Homo sapiens: one gene and its partners. The protein of the gene in region 2 interacts with the protein of the main gene of each other region in a pairwise test. Each region holds a gene or a part of one and is shown on either strand. Other genes may lie near its edges.

Evidence for each region. The genes of interacting proteins can lie anywhere in the genome.
Region 1: the proteins of RFFL (region 2) and KCNIP3 interact in binary tests that used the Homo sapiens proteins (3 or more experiments, as listed by UniProt).
Region 3: the proteins of RFFL (region 2) and PTGS1 interact in binary tests that used the Homo sapiens proteins (3 or more experiments, as listed by UniProt).

What each region holds. Positions count from the first base shown.
Region 1 is NC_000002.12:95,293,335-95,300,362, reverse strand, and holds the start of KCNIP3 (calsenilin), read right to left. Parts: upstream 3,017-7,028; 5' UTR 2,925-3,016; coding exon 2,910-2,924; intron 1-2,909. UniProt on the Homo sapiens protein: Calcium-dependent transcriptional repressor that binds to the DRE element of genes including PDYN and FOS. Affinity for DNA is reduced upon binding to calcium and enhanced by binding to magnesium. Seems to be involved in nociception.
Region 2 is NC_000017.11:35,060,692-35,067,520, reverse strand, and holds the start of RFFL (E3 ubiquitin-protein ligase rififylin), read left to right. Parts: upstream 1-3,813; 5' UTR 3,814-3,945; intron 3,946-6,829.
Region 3 is NC_000009.12:122,366,779-122,374,039, reverse strand, and holds the start of PTGS1 (prostaglandin G/H synthase 1 isoform 1 precursor), read right to left. Parts: upstream 3,017-7,261; 5' UTR 2,956-3,016; coding exon 2,949-2,955; intron 2,855-2,948; coding exon 2,768-2,854; intron 2,428-2,767; exon of another isoform or gene 2,225-2,427; coding exon of another isoform or gene 2,206-2,224; intron 1-2,205. UniProt on the Homo sapiens protein: Dual cyclooxygenase and peroxidase that plays an important role in the biosynthesis pathway of prostanoids, a class of C20 oxylipins mainly derived from arachidonate ((5Z,8Z,11Z,14Z)-eicosatetraenoate, AA, C20:4(n-6)), with a particular role in the inflammatory response.

The sequences.
Region 1 (7,028 bases), on a different chromosome or scaffold from region 2:
CCTGCCTCACACAGAAGGTCTTGATAAGACAAGGCAGCCTGAATTTAAAATGTTGGGGTCCTTTACTTCCTAGCTCTGGATCCACAGTCCAAAAATGGGAGGCAGCTAGCTCCAGGTCACGTGGCTAACGCAGGGGATGCGGCCAGGTGGAGTCTGGCTTGTGTGCACTCACTGGAGGGCTCAGAGGGCACAACAGACCACCGGCCGCACGGCTGGGATGGGCCCCTCCTCTGCCATCTGGTTAAAGGCATGCCCTTCTCCTCCTGCGTCTTCTTCCGCAACCCCCAAGCCCTAGGGACTTGCTGCGCTCTGGAGTAAGACAGAGCAGGGTTCAAATCTCAGCCACAACTCTTGTAGCCTGCAGTCTGGGGCAGGCCTCTGTTTCCCCATCTGTGAAGTGGGGATGATACCAACAGCTGCCTTGTGGGCTGCGTGAGGGTCCAGGGAGATAATGCGGGAGACAATGTCCTAGATGGGCGTTGGTACCCTCAGGCTTCTGGCTCTCAGCTCTGCCCTTCTCCTGGGCTCTACCTGGAGGGCTGAGGCAGAGCCCCTTTCTTCCCAGTGCAGCCTGGGGTCTTTTGAAATGTGGGAGCAAATTAGGGCCCATCTCGCACAGTGCCCTGCAACAAGGCTGGAAGCCAGGCAAAAGGGGTTCCCAGTGCACGGGCTGAGCTGTGAAGACACCACAGCCTCAACACCGCGACAGCAGCGCCTGTCGCAGAAACTGCGGGTCTTTCGCTCCTTTCTCCTAAGAGCTCATGGGATCAAGCTCATGGAGTCCTGGAGCTGTTCCAGTTTTCTGAGCCTCAGTGTCTAGAATAGGAATGGCAGTGCCTCCCCGCCTCCCCATAGGAGTGAGGTGAGAATTCATGAATGGCTGGGGAGTAGGCTAGGGAGCCGGGCAGTCATGGGGCGTTACTGGGGGACAGCCACTGACCGTGACCCTGAGGAGTCAGAACACCTCCCAACCTGAGCTCTGACTACAGTCCCTGCTGCCACAAGAGAGGAAGGTTATTTTTCACAATCTCCCATTGATCTTGATGAGAAACCTAATGGTGGCTTCTCCTAGGACCACTGTCTCTGCTGGGCCCAGCACCAGGAGGTGTGGGTCCCACTCCCCTCCCTGGCCAGGCCAGCCACAGGAAGGCCACCAGCAGACATAAGGACAGTGAGACCCACTGGGGCCCAGGAGCTGGTTGTGGGAGGGTAGAGCGCAGTGTGGGGTCACAATGGCCAAGGGAAGAACCAGATGTAAGTGCAGGACTCAGGCCACCCACTCTGCCAGTCTGGCAGGGGCAGGAGTGGCCAAGCTCCCAGAGTGACCTTTGGCAGTTAAGGCCCGCAGAGGAAAGGCAAAGGAGGGGAGGACTGTCTTCTGCTGGAGGTCAGAGCTGGCTGTGTGCACATCTGTGTGCAGCCTGACTCTGGAAATTCCCATCTCTGTAGTCATGCAGGGTCGCTCAATGTGTCTCTGCCTATGGGCACGGTTGCACTGTGCACCCTGACGCCGTAGTGTGTGAGCCTGGGGCAAGGCGCTACGTTTCTCCACTCTGCCCTGCCTGCATGGTGGTTGCTGGGGAGACTTGAGGTGACAGGAGAGAAGGCACATTTTCCATGTGTAGTGTTGCCATGCTCAAAGGGCTTCATGCCATCACCTCAGCTGATCCTCTTGGCACCCTGGAAGATGGAGCAGATAGCACAAGGGAGGCCTGGGGTTTGGGGGCAGTGTGGTCCAAGCCAGCCACCCGCCCATGCTTGGATGCTTGTCCTCACAGATGAAAGAGGCAGGAAGCCATCTGTTCAGGGCAGAGACGCTGAGGTGCCAACCCCATATCCCTTCTTTCCTACATTCAAGACCCTGATTGTCTCTGGGTCCTTTTGCCCTTCTTTCTTTCTCCTTCCTGCTCATATGTCAGTATGAGCCCATGTGTGCTGGCTGGAGCTCCAGCAGTTATGTTGCACCTTAAGGTAACCTCAGGGGTGATACAGGGCAGGCCTGAAATGCTGCTGATCAGGCGGCCTCCAAGCCAGCCCTCCACTGCCCCTCTGGACTTCTGCATGAGAGAGAAACCCCGCTAACCTTGTTCCATCCACTGTTATTTGGGGCGTTCTGTTATGAGCAGCCAGACCTGAACTATCCTGAATGTGTGAGCAGCTCACAGGGCATCAGGCCAGACCTTTTGAGAGTCAGCTAGAGGCTGGAGGGCCAGCTTATTTCTCCTTCCCTCATTCCTCCTTTAATTCTTCACCCTTCCCTGTTCCCCACCACTGTTTCTCAAACTCTGTGCCAGGCGTTTTCCTTGCATTCTCTCTCTGACCTCCCCACAGCCCTACTGAAAGGGAATGTGTGGGAAGTGCTCTTGTTAGGGGCTCCTAGCCCTTTCAGAGGAAGTGGGCACTCATTCGTTACTTGATTGCTTGATTAGAAGATGCGTTCATTGACCAACCTCCAAGCACAAGTGACTCCCTCCCAGGCTCACCCCTCCCCCAAACCTGAAGGCTGTGGGGCCCGGGCTCAGTGTCAGCCACGCTGGCACCTGACCCAGGGACCTAACTGAGCAGGATGAGTCGTGGGCTGACCCCAAGCTCCTCCTCTGTCCAGCTTTTCTTCCGCAAACACTTATAAACCTCTCCCATCCAAAGGGAGCCCTAGGAGTTCAGCCTCCCAGCCAGGACACCCCAACACCAGCCAGGACACCCCAACGCCAGCCAGGACACTCCAACACCAGCCAGGACACCCCAGCGCCAGCCAGGACGCCCCAACGCTCACTTTCCCCAAAGGAAAGTGGAACAAGAGGGGACAAGGGTCAAAGAAAAAGGCTTCCTGGTCCAGAGCAACCCCCAGAAGCCTCCATTCCTCCCCCCGACCCCCCTCCAGAGCAAGACCCCATTCCCCCAGCACCTACCTTAGCCGGCTGCATCCTGGGCGCTGAAGAAAACTGTTGCCAGCCTCCCCACTTCACAGCCGAGGCAGACAAGACTGCCCAGGCCGGCTGGCAGCTGCCTCATGTTTGCTTGGACCCAGACGTAATTGTCAACGGCGGCTTCTCGCCCTCCCCCTGCCCACCCCTTCCTCCCTGCCGGCTTCTATCGCTCCACCCCTCTGCCTCCTCGCTCCCTCCCTTTCTCTCTTTCTCTCTCTCTCTCTCTCTCCCCTCTTTCTCTCTCTCTCTCTCCCCTCTTTCTCTCTCTCTCTCCATGGCCCCTAATCCTGGTCTCTCAGAGCCTGTCCAAGCCTCTGTCTGGCTCTCCTGGCCTCTCCCCTACCCTGTCACCAGCGGCTCTCTGTGCCTCCCCTGCCCGCTGCCTCTTTCTCTGCTCCTTGCCCTTTTTGGTCACCAAGGAGGAATGGGGGTAGAGGGTGCAGGGAGCTGGGGCTGGGGAGAGGGGAGTTCAGGGCAGGAGTTTCTGCCCCAAGAAGTGGGGAGGAGCAGCAGTTGAACCCAGAGTGCCCAGGAGGGACTGTGGAAGTGGAAAAGGAAGGGATCATTCCTGGAGGTATTTTCCAGAACAAGCCAGGACACCCCCACTGCCCCAGTCCCGCCTGCCACTCTTCACAGACACAGGACAGTGCCACCCTTATGATGATCTCAGCCCAAGGGGCCCCCAGGACAGCAGGGAGCCACTGCACCCAGCATCTGAAGCGTCCTCTCTCAGGGTCCTGGCCTGAGGTGCTGGTCTGCAAGGTGCTGGTCTGGGGCTCACATCCTAGAAACAGCAACAGCCACCAGGGCTACATCAGCAGGGTGACACTCAGGGTCCTTCCACCTCTTTCATCTGTCCCTTATTAACTACCTCCCATTCACCCATCCGAGGGCCTCGAAGCACGGGTGTCTCCCCAAAGCATGACCTGCTCATGCTCTCCAGCTGTGCTGGGTCCCCTCCCAGCTCCCAAGTCAGGATGCATCCAGGGTGGCTGAGGACCTGACGGGATCTCCTGGGGTGTGAGGGTGAAGGATGGGGCCGAGGGCTCCCAGGCATCCCTGAGAGAGGGGGCTGTGTCCTGTCCCTTGGGCGGGCAGCTCCTGGGCATTTGCTTGGCCCCCAAGCAAACCACTCAGGAGCCAGGTGCCTGAAACCTTTGCCAAGTTTCCCTTTTTGGAGCCCAGAGGAGCCAGCCTGTGCCAGTAGTTCCCATGGAGACGAAGCCCTAGGATGCCTCCCTCCTTTGCAGCCTGCACAATTGTGCTTGCATGCCCTTTTCCTTTTTTTTTTTTTTTTTTTTTGAGCCAACCAATTACCTCCAACTTTCAGATCCTCAGGGGAAGAAAATAGCCTGGAGCTGTCGACCCACCGAGGCAAGGAGGACTGTTTCCAGAGGGGAGGTGGCAGCCCAGGTGTCTGGCCCTGTGCGACTTCAGAACAGGCTGGACTTCACACTGGGGAAGGGGCTCGGCAGAGCCCGGAGGACTCCCTAGCTGCCCCCGCCCCACCCACACTGCACCCTAGGAAGTGGAGGGAGGCAAGCGCCTTCATGGCTGCCAGCTCAGGGCCGGCATCCTGGGAGCTCATCTGCTTTTTTTTTTTTTTTTTTTTTTTTTGAGACAGGGTCTCACTCTCTCACCCAGGCTGGAGTACAGTGGTATGATCATGGCTCACTGCAGCCTTGACCTCCCAGGCTCAAGCAATCCTCCTATTTCAGCCTCCCAAGTAGCTGGGACTACAAGGCTCATGCCACCATGCACGGCTAATTTTTGTATTTTTTCGTAGAGATGGGGTCTCACTATGTTGCCCAGGCTGGTCTCAAAGTCTGGGGCTCAAGTGATCCACCTGCCTCTGCCTCCCAAAGTGCTGGAGTTCCAGGCATGAGCCACCGTGCCCAGCCCCATCCTCCTTTCACTGCCTGAGACAGTCCTGCCCTCCTGACTCTGAGCAAGCCTCGCCTCCGCAAGCAGGGACGCATTGAGCATTTTGAGTCCTCATAGTGACCTTGGGAGAAAAGTGTAATTATCTCACTCTACAGATGATAATGGTGAGACCCAGAAAAGCTAAAAGACTGGCCCAAGTCACAGGCTAGGGAGTGGTAAAGCCAGGTCCCAAAGCCTGTTGCCTTCTTCCTAGAGTGAGCACCGTGGATGCTGAGATCCCGCTGGCGGTTCTATGCCCACGGCTTACACAGCAGCTTGGAAACTTGGTGACTGCACTGCCGTGATGGGCTGGTCTTCCTGACGGCCTGGCCGGAGGAGTCAGGAGCAGAGGAACCCACTCATCACAGCAGCACCCCCAAGAGCTGCTCGCCCCTGCTTGGCACACTCGCTGACATCCCACACTCAGATGCGCTGTCCTCGGAGTTCACCAGCCGTGACACCGCGGGCCTGGGACAACTGCCCTGCTCTGCTGGACCCACCGGCTGTTCGGGCCTTGCGAACCTCCCACTGCAGCTAGCACCTGGGTGGACACCCCTCATACAGATGTGGGGCGTATGTGACCCTGCCACCACACCCCCCTTCCTCAGTGGCCTATCCAGGGCCCCAAGTGCTTCCAGCTGGGTCCCTCCCCTGGGCCTGTGGGGAACACAGGAATGAGAAGGGGAGGAGAAAGGGGGCTGGACTCCCACATGGGCCTCAGAGGCGGACCTGTTGTGGGCACACGGGCATCTGCAGACTTCCCAGAGACGGCCTTGGCAATTCCCAGTATTCTCTGCGGTATATCAGACCCACAGAAGGTTAAGGAGGCTGTGGAAGGACCTGGTCTTGTCCACTAGGAACGCTTCAGCCCTGTGTTTCCCACTGTGGTTTCCTCACATAGGGGCTGTGGGGAGAAACTGAGGCTGGGGGGAGTTTGGAAGTGGGAAAGGAAGGGATGATTTCAAGCCCGGATGAAGGTCGGGTTTTCTCTCGTCACAGTGTTTCAGGAGGCAGTCGTGGGCTGTTTCAGCTGACCAGGGCCTTCATTCTTGTCCTTCCCCGGGCGAGCGGCTCATGGTGCTCATGCCCACAGGTCTTGGGGGCCTCTGCGCCTTCCTCCATTGTTGCTCATGATCCCACATTCCAGGCCCAAATTCAAGTCCCTCCTCCCCAGGCCTCCAAACGCAACTCTGTGGAGCCCCAGCCCAGGGCTCTTTTCCTTAGGCCCTATTTTTTGTTGGGCCCTGGCTGAGGGGTACAGGGGGAGAGAGAGAGAGCTGAGGGGTACAGGGGGGAGAGAGAGAGAGAGACAGAGAGAGAGAGAGAAAGCCTCGCCAGCTGGGTGCATCTTGGTAAGAAAATACAAATGGTCCTCATCACTTCACATCACAAAACACAGGCTCAGCCCCCATCGAAGCCCATGCCATCATCAACTCTCCTGCTCCCCACCCAGCTCAGGCCTGGGGGTGGCAGCTTGGGGCAGGCAGTGGGCATGGCAGCCTCTGGCTGAGCTGCGCTCTGGGTTTGCAGAGGTTGAGAGCTGTCCCTCTTTCTCTGTGGGCTCCTCCAAGGGTCCTAAGAGCCTGGCCCCATGGTCCCCTGACTAGAGTGTTTCACATGGGCCTCAGGGGACCCATAAGCCCCCAATACTTAGTGGCAGCTCTGCCTCCTCTTGGCTGAGGTCGGTTCACTCTCTGGGCAGCCTCCTTCGACTGGACCTAGGAGACTCCATGCTGTCTCTCACAGGAGGCCCTCACCTGGGCCGCCAGCCCTCTCCTTAGCTCCGCCTTCAATGCAGCCAGCCTGACTGCCCTCTAGACTTTGCAGTGGGTGAGGCATCAGTCCAAGGGATTTATTAAACTGCAGGGGACACGGTGAAGCTCTCTGGCGGCTTTCTTTAAAGCCCCTTTCCTTGCAGCTTGAAGTGAAGAGAGGGCGGCCGACCGCACCCCTTGGACTCAGCTCGCCTCTCTGAAACCTCCCTCCTCTAACCTCAGCGCCTGACTCCTTGGCTCCCACTCCAGCCCTTAGTGTGGGTAGGGGCTCAGCCACCTCTTCCCTAAATTCTGCTTCACTCGTGGGCAGAAGCCAAGGGCTCGGACGGGGCCCCACCCTCTGCACACCCCCTCCATCCCTCCTCATCCGAGCTGCAGTTCTCGGTCAGCATTTGTAAGACGG
Region 2 (6,829 bases):
TGTGCCACTGCACTCCAACCTGGGCGACAGAGCGAGACTCTGTCTCAAAAAAAAAAAAAAAAAAGGCTTGGAAGAGAGAGATACTTATTAAAAATTCAGTTTTGGCCAGGCATGGTGACTCACGTCTGTAATTCTAGCACTTTGGGAGGCTGAGGCAGGTGGATCACCTGAGGTCAGGAGTTCGAGACCAGCCTGGCCAACATGGCAAAACTCTGTCTCTACTTAAAATACAAAAATTAGCCAGACATGGTGGCATACGCCTATAATCCTAGCTACTTGGGAGGCTGAGGAAGGAGAATTGCTTGAACCCAGGAGGTGGAGGTTGCAGTGAGCTGAGATTGCACCATTGCACTCCAGCCTGTGCGATGAGAGTGAGATTCCGTCTCAAAAAAAAAAAAAAAAAATTCAGTTTCTGGGGCCTCCCTCCATGTCTGCTAATTCAGAGTGTCTGAGGGACTGGGATGAGAAATGTTCATTTTCAATAAGCACCCCTGTTGATTCTTAAGTACCCCTAGAGTTAATTGTTGAGTATCATAAAGTTTACTTCATTTTTCATGTTTAATTTCTGTGATTTATTAGATGATAAATATTTGGTTGCCATCATATTGTTTTTCTTAAATACTATGTTCTATAGTTAAAAAAAAAAAAAGGCTGTGAGGTCACTGAACACCAAGATTAGAATTTGGCAATCATTAATTATCAACAAGGTGAGACAGGCACTGATTCCTGGAAATGTGCATTTATCCATTCACCGACTTCTCAGTTAGAAAAAGGATGTGGACACAAGTAAGATTAATTTTGTTAAAAACAAGAAATGTGCAGTATCATTTAGGATGCTGGGGGTAGGGAAGTAGATAAAAGGGAGATGTTGAGAGGAAAGAGTGTGAAGAGAGAGTAAAGCAGTTTGTAAGTGATACAAACTTTAAAATTTTAACTGAATTTTAAACTACCAAGTCATATTTGAATATATGCTTGTTGTAAAAAAATTCATGATTTTTGGGGGGTAATTTGGATAAAGCTAAACATAGCTATTTGATCTTTATTCCCATTACAGTGCTCTCCCTGCTGTGTGCATCCTCCCAGATCTTCTGTATGTATTTGGTAATTTTCTGTGGATTTGGAAGACTACAGAATCCTGAGAAATGGATATTTTAATTTCTCTTTTGAAACCTGCTTATTGTTTATAATGTCAAGATCTATTGCAGAAAAGAAAGTAAATCTGGGATGTCAATGACATCACATATGTCTGTTCAAATGAAACAATGGGCACATACACATATGCACACTCATTAAATATCTGTTGAGACCACCCTATTAAAAAAAGCATAAATAGTTTTGGGTGTTAAGTTACTTGAGTTTTAAAATAACGTATTTTCTGTTTTTGTTGTTTTTTGTTTTGAGATGGAGTCTCCTTCTGTCGCCTGGGCTGGATTGCAGTGGCGCAATCTCGGCTCTGCAACCTCTGTCTCCTGGGTTCAAGTGATTCTCCTGCCCCAGCCTCTAGAGTAGCTGGGGTTAGAGGTGTATGCCACCATGCCTGGCTAATTTTAAAATAATGTATTGAAAGAACTTAGTCAGAAAGCCACAGTTATTATTTCTCCCATAGCCTCATATTCTCATAATTTTCATGTAACCTCATAAATCCTCAAGTGCCTGAAACCACTAGTTCAAACGAGTACCTTTTTAAGCTCTAAAATGTAATCCTCAACCTTTCCACTTTAAAAGGAAGAACTAGGATGGAGTGTGGCTATAATTTGGGGCAGTTGGTTAAAACTGTATCAGAGTCCCAAAGAGGGGAATGATAAGCTGCAGCAGCTCTGTTCACTTGCTCAATGGTGTTTCTCTTAGTCAACTTAGGAGTTCCATGCCTTTGGCCTTCAGGCTGCTCTTTATATAGTTCGTATCTGTCTCCTGGGCATAGTACTGTCTGGATTTTCTCTTTCTTTTTTTTTTTTTTTTTTTGAGACGAAGTTTTGCTCTGTTGTTGCCCAGGCTGGAGTGCAATGGCACAATCTTGGCTGACTGCAACCTCTGCCTCCCGGGTTCAAGCGATTCTCCTGCCTCAGCCTCCCGAGTAGCTGGGATTACAGGCATGTGCCACCACACCTGGCTAATTTTGTATTTTTAGTAGAGATGGGGGTTTCTCCATGTTGGTTAGGCTAGTCTTGAACTCCCGACCTCAGGTGATCCGCCCACCTCGGCCTTCCAAAGTGCTGCAATTATAGGCGTGAACCGCTGTGCCCGGCCCTCTTATTTAAAGTTCGCAAATACAGAACAGGTCAGGAGCTTTTCTAATCATTTTTTTTTTTTCTGAAGGAGGTTCCATATTTGTCTGTACCTTGAGAGTTGTTTCATACTAGAATTTGTAACTTATCATCAACTACAGAAATTTTTTTTAAAGTGTGGTTGAAGAGATAATGGTTGTCAGCTGCTATAAAGATGTGTTTATCATTCAGAAAGGACTAATTAACATGTACTATAGGGAAACTTCTTTAAACAAAGCCATTTTCTGAAAGGAAAACACTGAAGGGGAGGAAATAAAACAGGGAACATTTTATAATACCTTATCAAAGCTCAGCGTGGCTATCCTACTGGAATAATGTAATTAAGGAGAATTAAGTGAGTTGGATAAATAACTTTTTAAAACTAGCCCCTTGAATAGAAAATTAAGTAGTATAGTTTTTAAACTCAAATTCTGTCTGCACGTACATTTTAATTAACCTAACATTATTGAATGACAAGCTGAGTTGGCAGCTACATCCAGAGTTCATGCCATGTGAGACCTACCTTAAAGGATGAACGAAGCTGGGTGCAGAGGCCTCAAATGCCCTGCTAAGAAATAGCTGATGGCCTTGGGGAACTGTCATACATTTTAAGCAGGAAACAGAAGGATCTAATAGGAACTTTAGTTTCTCTCTTGTCAAATTAAAGCACACAAAAAGCAAGGACTTGATCTTTTTTTTTTTTTTTTGTATAACACCAATGTCAATTCTAGCCTGTCAGGGCAAATTCAGTAATTAATAGCTGTTGATGAGCCAGTCATTCTAGATTGATTTTTTAAATAAGCAGGCTAATAAATGAGAATTGACATAAATTTAGGGATGTCTCTTTTCAGAGCAAGTGTTAAGGTGATTTTCATAGTCTTCTGTATTCCCTATGCATCCAGTAGGTGTGATGGTAAATGATTTGGCTTTAGCATAGAGAATGTGGCAGCTGATTAAAAAAAAAAAATTCCAGTGCATCTATCTTAATGAGAGAACTTGAGTTGTCTGAAGAAATAGAGAGGTCAGAGGAGGCCTAGTGGGAAAAAAGAACAATGAGCCTGGTTAGAACTGACAAAAATTCACCCTAATGATTTGACTGGCTAATGATGACTGGGCAAGTTCCCTGAGTCCACTGACCCAGATGTTCTAATTTGTAAATGCAAAGTGACTTATTTATCAGCCTCCTGGGGAAATCTTCAGAGCTGTGAACCTGCTATGTTCAGTAATCTTGCTGGCCCCAGCCCCAGCCTGTTCTCAGATGAAATTTTAGAAACTGGCCACTGGAACTTTTTGGGTAAGGGCTCTGGAGGTGGCCAAGTTACCAGTAGTGGGGGAATGAGGTTTACCTGCCCCCAGTAATCAGCACTTGATTTAAAACAATCAGTGAGCTGCCTCTTCTTTCCTAGGTTGCAGTTGACTGCGGTTGGTTCAGGCTGAGTTGTTTGGGAAGTACAAATTTTGCCCAGCGTGAGTCAGCACTGCCCTGGGTAAACTCCCTGCTGTGTTGCAATCTTGCTTACCAAAGATACATCCCCAGGCGGCACCATTCACTTCACATGAAAGCCGCTGCTCTTGGTTCCTGAGATGATCTCATCTGAACATGGCTCCAGCGACCTCAGCCACAGGAACTAGAGACAGCTTGCTTTCTGTCGTGGCAATGTTTTGAAACTGGCAAAATCAGGTAACCTCAAACTGTTTTCTTAAGTTTCATTAGCTAGATGAAGCTGCATTAGAAACTGGGAAAATCCTGTCTTCAGAAGTGAGTCAGGTTTTTTTTTTTTTTTTTTTTTTTTTTTTTTTTGAGACGGAGTTTCACTCTTGTTGCCCAAGCTGGAGTGCAATGGTGTGATCTCGGCTCACTGCAACCTTCACCTCCCGGGTTCAAGTGATTCTCCTGCCTCAGCCTCCCAAGTAGCTGGGATTATAGATGTGCGCCACCATGCCCGGCTAATTTTGTATTTTTAGTAGAGACAGGGTTTTGCTGTGTTGGTCAGTCTGGTTTCGAACTCCCAAGCTCAGGTGATCCACCCTCCTCAGCCTCCCAAAGTGCTGGAATTATAGGCATGAGCCACGGCCCCCGGCCAGAAGTTTTCTTTCATTTGAGTTCTGGATGTGGAGTTAGGTCCAATTAAATCACTGATTATATAAATCTTAGAAAAGTAAAACGTTAGGTTTACAGCTTTATCCGTCATTTGCTCTTGTATTTTGTTTTTTTGTGTGTATCTTGTGAGAAACACTTTAGTCAAACTAAGCCATTGTTAAAGGAAAAGAAGTGAAGGCATTTGGTTGCCTTCCTAATAACTAAATATTGAGTTGTGGAGAACACTGTCTTATCAGTGAGTTTGTTCCCATATTCCTTTCTGAATTAATAGGAAGAACCTCCCTCATCTCTAATTCTACTAGGCTACTACTCTATCTCCCTCCTGCTTTTCATCGCCAAACTTTTGAGTCCTTCACCTAATCAGACTATGATATCTCTAGGTAGTCGTCACCCTCCAAATTACGTTTCTGCTCCTTATAATTCCAACAAATTGCCCACGTTCTCTTTCACCTCAGACCTTAGCATATGTAAGCGTTCTTTTACACACCTTCCCCAAGCTTAATCTGGCCAACTGGTTTCAGCCTAGAAGTCACCTCTTCCATGAAGCCTCTTCTTACTTACCAGGGTTGAGTACTCAGGAGAACCTGGTATTTACTCCAATCATAGTATGTATTGAGAATCAGGGTCTGCTTTGCTAGAATTGTATCCATGGTACGTTGCACATAGTAGGTTCTCAGTAAGGGTAGAATGAGCAAGAGCCTGTACTGTACTTTCTCAACTCTGATCCTCTCATCAACTCTTTTTTTTTTCTTCTGAGAGGAATCTTGCTCTGTCACCCAGGCTGCAGTGCAGTGGTGTGATCTTAGCTCACTGCAACCTCTGCCTTCCTGGTTCAAGCGATTCTCCTGCCTTAGCCTCCTGAGTTGCTGGGACTACAGGTACGTGCCACCACGCCCAGCTAATTTTTGTATTTTTAGTAGAGACAGTGTTTCACCATGTTGGCGAGGATGGTCTCGATCTCTTGACCTCATGGTCCACCTGCCTTGGCCTCCCAAAGTGCTGGGTTTACAGGTGTGAGCCACCGCGCCCGGCCTTGTTCATTCTTTTTATGCTCACATCTTTAAATGTGCTAAACCCTGTTGATTTTGTTGGAGTACTGTTTGATGTGTGGCTTTTCTTCATTCCCACTGTCATTGCCTTAATTTACCAGAGGTCAAAACTGGACGTTTAAAGTCAGGCTGGGCACGGTGGCTCACGCCTGTAATCCCAGCACTTTGGGAGGCCGAGGTGGGCAGATCACCTGAGGTCAGGAGTTTGAGACCAGCCTGGCTAACATGGTGAAACCCCATCTCTACTAAAAACAAAAAATTAGCTGGGCGTGGTGGCACGTGCCTATAATCCCAGTTACTCAGGATGCTGAAGCAGGAGAATCACTTGAACCCAGGAGGTGGAGGTTGCAGTGAGCGAGGATCACACCACTGCACTCCAGCCTGAGCAACAGTGAGACTCCATATCAAAAAAAAAAAAGAGTTTGAGACCATCCTGGCCAACATGGTGAAACCCTGTCTGTATTTAAAAAAAAAAAAAAAGGCACGCCACGCATGGTGGCCAGTGCCTGTGGTACCAGCTACCCAGCAGGCTGAGAAAAGAGAATTGCTTGCACCCAGGAGGTGGAGGTTTCAATGAGCTGAGATTGTGCCACTGAACTCCAGCCTAGGCACAGAAGAAGACTCCATCCCAAAAATCAATCAGTCAGCCTAAGGGCTTAAAATTTTGTGTGTGAATACTTTTAGGCACCATCAGAGAGAAGGCCTGTACTCTTCAAAGATTACGGATACCACCATTTTCTGACATCTTACACACTGAAGACTTAGCATTTTACCTGCATTGCCTCTAGGAATTTGAGTTTGTAACTCCTAGTTCAGACCCTTATCAAATGGCCACTCCTCCATAAGTCTTTCCTTGCTCCTATCTTCTCCATATTGTTGCCCAAGTTATCTTTTTAAAGTCCACATCTAATCTTTTCATTTAAGGTGCCATTTGTTCCCTGTTTTCCACTTAGCTTGACTTCTAAAAGCTTTCACAGTTGGATTCTTTCCTACATGTTGCTGTTAACCATCTCATCTCCCTCTCCCCTGGCCATTTCTCTCCTCTCCAGCTTCACTGAACTTCTCATGTTAACATTCCATGGATATACCATGTCTTTTAGGACTCTGCCTTTTCCCAATGGACTCTCCCTTCTCTAACTGGCAAGATACTCATCCCTCAGGACACTTAGTTCATATATGCATCTTCTCTGACTTCTCTGTCTTTTCTGACAGACAGCACTGTCTGTCTCTTCCACTAGACTGTTGAGTTCTTTGACTGAACTTGGTGTCCCTGGACTAGAGCTTGGCACCATCAGAGAGAGTGGCTGACGTGGATCTCCGGGCTCAAACCGTTATTCTTTGCAATATTAGAAGCTTTTTTGTTAGATGGCATGGTTTTTCATTCCTATTTGATGAACATGAGCCCATGGCTGCTT
Region 3 (7,261 bases), on a different chromosome or scaffold from region 2:
GGGCTCCAGGTCCAGGACTGAGCGTGACTAGGGGACAGGCACAGCCAGGGAACACCAAGTCCTCCAGGATGCAGAGGTGTCAGGCTGCAAGATTGCCCAGTGAAGAGGCAGGACCCAAATCCCCTAAAGAGTAATATTTAGAGAGTCTCTGGGGACCTGGCAGCCAGAGAGAAAAAAAAAAAAGGTGGGGAACCCTGACTGGTTTGGCCTGGGCCCCAGTCCCCACACCTAAGCACCACCACACCAGATCCAGACAACTGGGCCCAGCAGCTGGAAGAGCCTGCTGGTGGGGAAGCCCTCTCCCGGCCCACAGACCCAACTGGTGCTGGCGAGAGCAGGTGCAGGCACCCGGGCAGCCTTGGCACAGCTGGCATCTTGCCCCATGTGCCCGGGTCAGCTGGCCTGGGGCTCCTCTGCCTGGCATGCAGCTCTGGTTGCCAGGTCATGCCCTATCCCCATCTAGAAGATGGGCACTGAGTCAAGTCCAGAGACTAGAGGGGAAGTACTTGAGCATTCAGGGCGCCCCCGGCACAGCCTTGCCTCCAGGCTGGCCTCCATCTCCTCACCCACCAGAGAGGCAAAAGCAGCATTCTCTCCCTCCGCCTGCCCTCTTAGGTGAGTGCAGCCCTCATCTCTTCATCTCCTTTGCCTCTAGAGGTAAAAGACAGGCTTTGGCTTCCTGGGGCAGATGCCCAAGTAGCTTGGCCCTCAGTTTACTCGCAGACTTGGAAATATGAGGGCAACCCAGACCTTCTGCCCCTGCACTCCACCAGTCATTCGTTCTTTCCTAGATCCTTGCAGGAGCCTCGGTACCAGTTTTCTGGCCTCCAGTCTCATCCCCACATTACGCATCCAACCTCAGCCTCCTGCTCCACATTACCCTTACGGTGTTTCCTGGTCGAGTCTCTTAGTGTTTCCCCCACCCGCCACCTCCTTCGAGGTCCAGTCCAAAAGTCATCAGATCCAAGAAGCCTCCCTCAATTCTTCGCACTGAGAGGCAGCTGCTCCCTCCCCTGAGCTCCGCACACCCCTGCTCCCTTCCCTGGGCTCCCTATACCCCTGCTTCCTCCCATGAGCTCCGCACAGCCCTGGTCCCCTTGGATGACAGTCTGTTGGCATTTCTGGCTCCACCATCAGCCTGTCAGCTCCTCCCAGCTCCGTGTCTCCAGGCCCCAGCCAAAGACTGGCATAAATAACCCTTGGGGATAAAAAAAAACAATTCCGTGTAAACATTTATTATACAAAAGGAAACAGAAAAGGCAAAAAACAAAATAGCACAGACCATGGCTCATTGTGCATTAGTGAATGGACTAAAAAAGAATACAGACGGGTGGGACCTGTATACCAAGAGTGCCTGGATGAGGCCAGATGGGGCCTCAGAGGAAGTGCTGGGCTGATCCAGGGACTGACAAGATGGGTCAGCGAGGCAACCTGAAGAGCCCCTTCTACTCCCCACCACCAGCTCACTGTGAGGATTCAGACAAGTGGCTTCACTCCCTCTGGGCCTCAGAGTCCCCTTCTGTAGACTGGGTCTAACGCATCTCTCTGGCAGGGCTGTTGAGAGCACCAAAGAGGTGGATGTCCACAACCAACCTTTGTAAACTTTAAAGTGCTGGCCACATGAGTCTTCCTCCTCCTCTTCCCATAAACCAGACTTTTATTCAACGCAATCCCTTTCCTAGAGCACCCTCCGTCCTCTCTTTGGGTCCCCTAAATGCCACCCACCCAAAGCCCGTTTCAGGAAACTTGGTCTGATCCAAAATCCATGTACATATCTTTCCTCTTTCCCCCACGCACCAGATCCTTAGAGCATCACAGCAGAAAGTGCGGACTCCCTCTGCTCCCTCCTGCCCTCTCTGGGCCTCATTTTAGAGATTTTACACAGCTAGGTGGTGGAGGAAACTATATCCAACTGGGACACATGCTCACACACACGCACACACACAAGCAGCGAGCTGGGGGAGGAAGGTTGGCTGAGCGAGGAGCTGAATTCCTTCACCTGGAACCTGGCACATGCATGGGGGAGGGAAGGGCGGAATTTCCCCATCAACCTCCCCCATGAAACCCAGAGTGGCTCCGGGTCCATTGTGGGTAGAAGCAGCTTTCTGTGGAAAGACCTTGCGAAGTGTGTGGACGCAGACAGACCTGAGTTCAGATCCTGGGCCCACCATGTATTTTGTGAGCTTGGGGAATCATGGCACCTACTGAGCCTCGGTTTCCTCATTTGCTCAATGGGGATCTCTTAAACCCCAGATGAAGCATCCCGGCTCCTAAATGTATTTCCATCTCCCATGTTCTCCCGAAGTCTTCACCAGGGGAGACCTTCTCCACTGGCAATGGGAATCAGGATGGGTTCCCAGACGGTTAGAGGCTGGAGAAAGGGAACTCATTTCCCTTGGTGCCTGCGGCTTCCTCCCAAAGAGGCCCCTATAGGAAACAGCGGGGTTGTTGGGTGCAGAGGCTGCTTAGACATCTGGGGCCCAGAACAGGTGAGGGGGATGGATAGGGACTGTCCCTTCTCCCCAAGTTGGCACCAGATCCCAGTCTGCTGTTTCCCCTGAAAGAACTAGATAGCCCATTAGCCAAGGCCACACCGCCGGGGGGGCTTCAGGGAGCCCCCATCCCACCAAAAGACTCAGCCTCAGTCTTTCTCAGCACCGCGAGCAGAAAGGGGAAGCTGGGCCCGCTGGAGGGGAAAGGAGGGGGTTGAAACCAGGCCAGGGGCGCAAGACCGGGGATTCCCTTGGGGAGGGATGGGGCCGCCTACCTGGCGTGGGCGCCCCTGGGTCCGCGAGCAGGACGGGGAGCGGCGGGAGCAGGAGCAGGAACAGCAAGAACCAGAGCAAGAGACTCCCTGCAGAGGAGAGAGATGAGGGGCTGAGCCTGGCATTCAAGGCTCCACCAGGAGGCCAAGAAAATTCCCCACCGGGCACCGGGGTCGCACTCACGGCTCATGGCGCGGCTGCTGGGGTGCGGGACGCAGAGTGCAGGCTCCTGTGCGTGCGCCTCGCACACTGCCCGGAGCTCCAGCCCATCCCCTCCCCACCCTTCCCCCGGCTCCACCCCCGCTCCTCCCTCCAGCTGTCACCTCGGCTGCCCGCTTACTTCCTCTGCCCAGCCCCGGCCAAGGCATTTTATTAATTAGTGTATGCTCGCCGCTAAAGCGGCTTTTCACCCAAGATCCTTGAAGCACTTACGTTTCTGATGCCTGGTGGCACTAGATATAGACAGGAAACTGAGGCTCAGAGACGATGCTCAATGCTGAGGTCACCCAGGGCTTAGGGACAGAACTGGGGATGGAAGCGGCTCGTCTGAACCACATACCCTGCCCCGCAGAGAAGAAAGGGTCTCAGAGTCCCCTTCTGTAAAATGGGTCTAACGCACTCTACAGAAAAGGGTAGAGAAGAAAAGGGGCTAGAAACAGGGCAGTCTGCAGAGAAGAAAGGGGGCTAGAAATGGGGCAGTCCAGCCTGGCCTGCTGATGGTTTCCTAGATGAGAAACTCACTACTCCTCAGACAGATCTAACAGGAAGGACTTACTTCCCCCATGGGCTGGGCTCCGCCCCCTGAAGCCACAGGTCTCTGCCAGAAATGAAAAGACCGGGCTCCAAACTCCAAGAGAGCCTAGTTCAAATCCAGACTCCACAGCTTACTGGCCGTGTCACCTTGGACAAGGTACTTATCTTTTCTAGCCCTCAGTATTCTCATCTATAAAATCGGCTTAATAGCAAAAACCATCCCAGAGGGTGGTTGTAAGATTCAATGAGGGAATGCACACAAATCTCCTGGTGCAGTGTCCAGCATGTAGTAGGTGCTCAGTTATCGGAAGGCATTTTTTCAAAGATCTCTGAACTCAGATTCCAGGGCTGGCCAGGGTCCATGCTGTAGCTAGACTCACATCCACCGCCGAATTTATAGAATCCCAGCATCCAGCTCTCCTTTTCGCCAGCTCAGGAAGCACCTAGAAGGAGGAAGGAATAGGTCCAAGATCACCCAAAGTCCCATGGTGCTGGCACCCACAAGTCATCTCCCTCAGTTTCCCCAGCACACCCAGCCATCCTGTGGGCCCCACAGTGGGGAAAGCCGGCAGGAGAGCTCAGAGGTTCTTGTGCTGGCTCCTGGGCATCACTGGGTGCAGGGTAGAAATTATGCCAGGTGGGAGAGGTGAAACCTGCTGGGAAGCCCCTCCCCCATTCTCACCCAAGCTGTTCCCATGCTCCCCTGGGACAAAAGCCAGCTGCCCTAGGGAGACAGAGCAAGCCAGGGCAGACCTGGAGAAGGAGTGGGGCATTGGAGGGCCCTGGGGCTCTCAGGGTGCCGGGACCGGCTTCAGCCTTCCCTTCCTCCCCAAATCAAGGGCCCCCTAGCATTTACAGGGCAAGGAGATGGGATTATCAGCAAAAGGGATGGGGACAGGGTGGAGGTGTGGGGGTCCAGTTGTCCAAAGAAAGGGGGAGTTTCTGGTGAGAAGAAAGGAGAGACGGGCTTGAATGAGGTTCCATCTTCCACTCCCAGGCCCTCCCTCCCTTTGGGCCCTGAGCCCATCAAGTCACCACACCTGTGCCTCCTGCTGACTTCCAAGCCACCCATCTGCACTCAAAACAAGAAACACTTGTGTGGCCCTGGCACTGATGGGAAGAGCCTTCACCTCAGAATCAGAAGTGAGTTCAAGTCACTTCTTCCATAGCGTGACCTTAAACAAGCCGCTAGGCCTCACTGGGCCTCTGTTTCCCCATTTGAACAACAGAATGAGCAGATCAGATGGTCTCTGAGGACTGGTCCAGTTCCAGCATGGAGCAATTGAGCCCTCACTGCAGCCAGGCTCTGTGACCAGCACCACAGATCTCAACACAGCTGCAATACAGGAGAGGATGGAGTCTGAGAGAGCAGGCAGGGTGCCGAGGCAGCCCTCCAGGGATGAGGCAGGACCAAGAGCATGGAGTGGGGAGAAGGTAGATGAGAGAAATGGTGGCAGAAGTGCCAGGGCTTGGTGACCGATTAGCACTAGAGCTTAGGGGAAGAAAGGTGCTGAGGACACCTAGCCTTCTGGCTCAATGCTGGTGGTAATATCCAGGGAAGGGGAGCTGGCATGGGTAGGTGGAATTTGAATTTGGGCTTCTTGTATTTGATCCACTTCAAGGAATGAGGAGGATCAAACCTTCCCTGCCTTCTCCAGCTTGGCCCATGGGCCAGCACCCCCAACCGCCCCAGCATGCAGCTGGATACACAGGGGAGAGGTCTGGGGTAGCCCTTGCCCCAGCCCTGGGAAAGAGACCACAGCACAGGGCCACCTTTTCCTGCTCCCTACTGCAAAGCTATAGTCTAAATGCCTAGGACTGGTGTCACCATCCTAGTCCTCAAGATTGTGAGCTTCCACTTATAGGGCAAGTCCACCTCCCATGTCCCCTGGTAGGCCTCCTCTAACATGCCTCCTCCTCCCCCTTCTCTCCTCTAGGAAGCCCCTGTGCCTTCCCTGGCCACAGCAGTGCCACTCCTGATCACATTGTCCCTCTGCCCCCAAACATTATGAGGCTATAAGAGTCCTGGTCACTCTTGTAGCCCCAAGGCCAAGCATAGGATCTGGCGGATAAAAGACATCCAGGGAATGTTTGTTGCTTGAACAAAGAAATGAATGAGTATCTAAAAGAGTAGTGAATGCATTAAAAAAACAGACCAGGTCCAGCACCAGCCTCATCGAAGTGACTGCCAACCACCCATCTGCTGTGACGGCCACCAAAAGTATCACTGCCTGCCTCAGTTTCCCTGCCTTCTCCAGCTTGTCCCATGGGCCAGCACCCCCAGCTGTCCCACAGGCCCAGCTTCACCCCAGGCCCTGAGCCCTTCCCAGCTAAGGCAGCAAGGACCTCCTTCCCTATACCCCACTGGTAACAAGGGATAGGATTTCTCTCTGCATAGCCCCCTCCCCATTATCCACACCAATCACGTGCCCTCCTGCTCACCCTAGCTACAGCCTGGATTGTAATGCTCCTGGAGAGGTCTCACTCCTGCTGGGCCCCACCCACTATTTGGAAAACCAGAGCTGACTCTTACCTGAATCACTCATGGACCCAGCCCCACCCGGCCCCACCTGTGTAGGCAGCTTCTCAGTCAGGCAGGAAGGCTCTGGACTCAATCCAATATCTCTTCAAATCCCAGTCCTCCACCCCACCTGACCTCTCAGTGTGACCTTAAGCAGCAAACTGCCCTTTGTGGACCTCAGTTCCCCCACCTGTAAAAACGTGGTTAATAATGCCACTCTTGCAAGAGTTGTTGTGAGGATGAAGTAAGATAGTCCCTGTGAGCATCCCCAGCATTCAGTAGGAGCTCAATGCTAGTTCTTTATTGGCCCTCGCTTCTACTCCCTACCTGAGCAAGAGGGTTGCATGAAAAATTCCCTTCCTCCTCCTCTTTACCTACTCAGAACCAGGCTAGGGTTGACCATTGGAGGTAATAATAATAATGGCTAATATTTCTTGAATATCTACTATGTGCAGGGTAGAATGCTATGTGTTTTAAATGCACTGTTACATGTGATTTTTCTCAACAACCTTATAAAGTCAGTATCATCACTTCCATTTACAGAGAAAGAAAGTGAGGCCCAGTGTTGAAGCAGCTTGTCCAAGATGCACAACCAGTAAGAGTCAGGTTTCAAGGCCCAACCCTTTTGTTCTGGAATACCGGGTACCTGTACCCAAGCCCCAGCATAACCAACGAGTGTTTGAAGTTAAAAGGAAACAGAAAGGCTCGCTAGGGTGGTAGTCGGCTTGTGGAGCGATGTGTGGGATCCAATTTAAGCAACATAGTTCAGCTGAGAAGCTGAGAACTGAGAGTCACAAAATAATGTTTTGGTTTTGGTTTTGGTTATTTTTTGTCAGGGTCTCACTCTGTTGCCCAGGCTGGACTGCAGTGGTGCGAACTTGGCTCACTTCAGCCTTGATCTCCTGGGCTCAGGTGATCCTCCTACCGCAGCCTCCTGAGTAGCTGGAACTACCGGGTGCATATCACTATGCCCAGCTAATTTTGTTTTATTTGTTTTTTTGTAGAGACGGGGGTCTCACTATGTAGCCCAGGCTGGTCTTGAACTCCTGGGCTCAAGTGATCCTCCCACACTGGCCTCCCAAAGTGCTGGGATTACAGGCATGAGCTACCACACCCGGCCTACCAAATGCGTTTACATCCCTTTCTCATGGAAACCCTCACAATTGCTGGAAGAAGAAGGTATCATGATCCCCATTGTGCAAAGAGGAAAATGAGGCTCAAA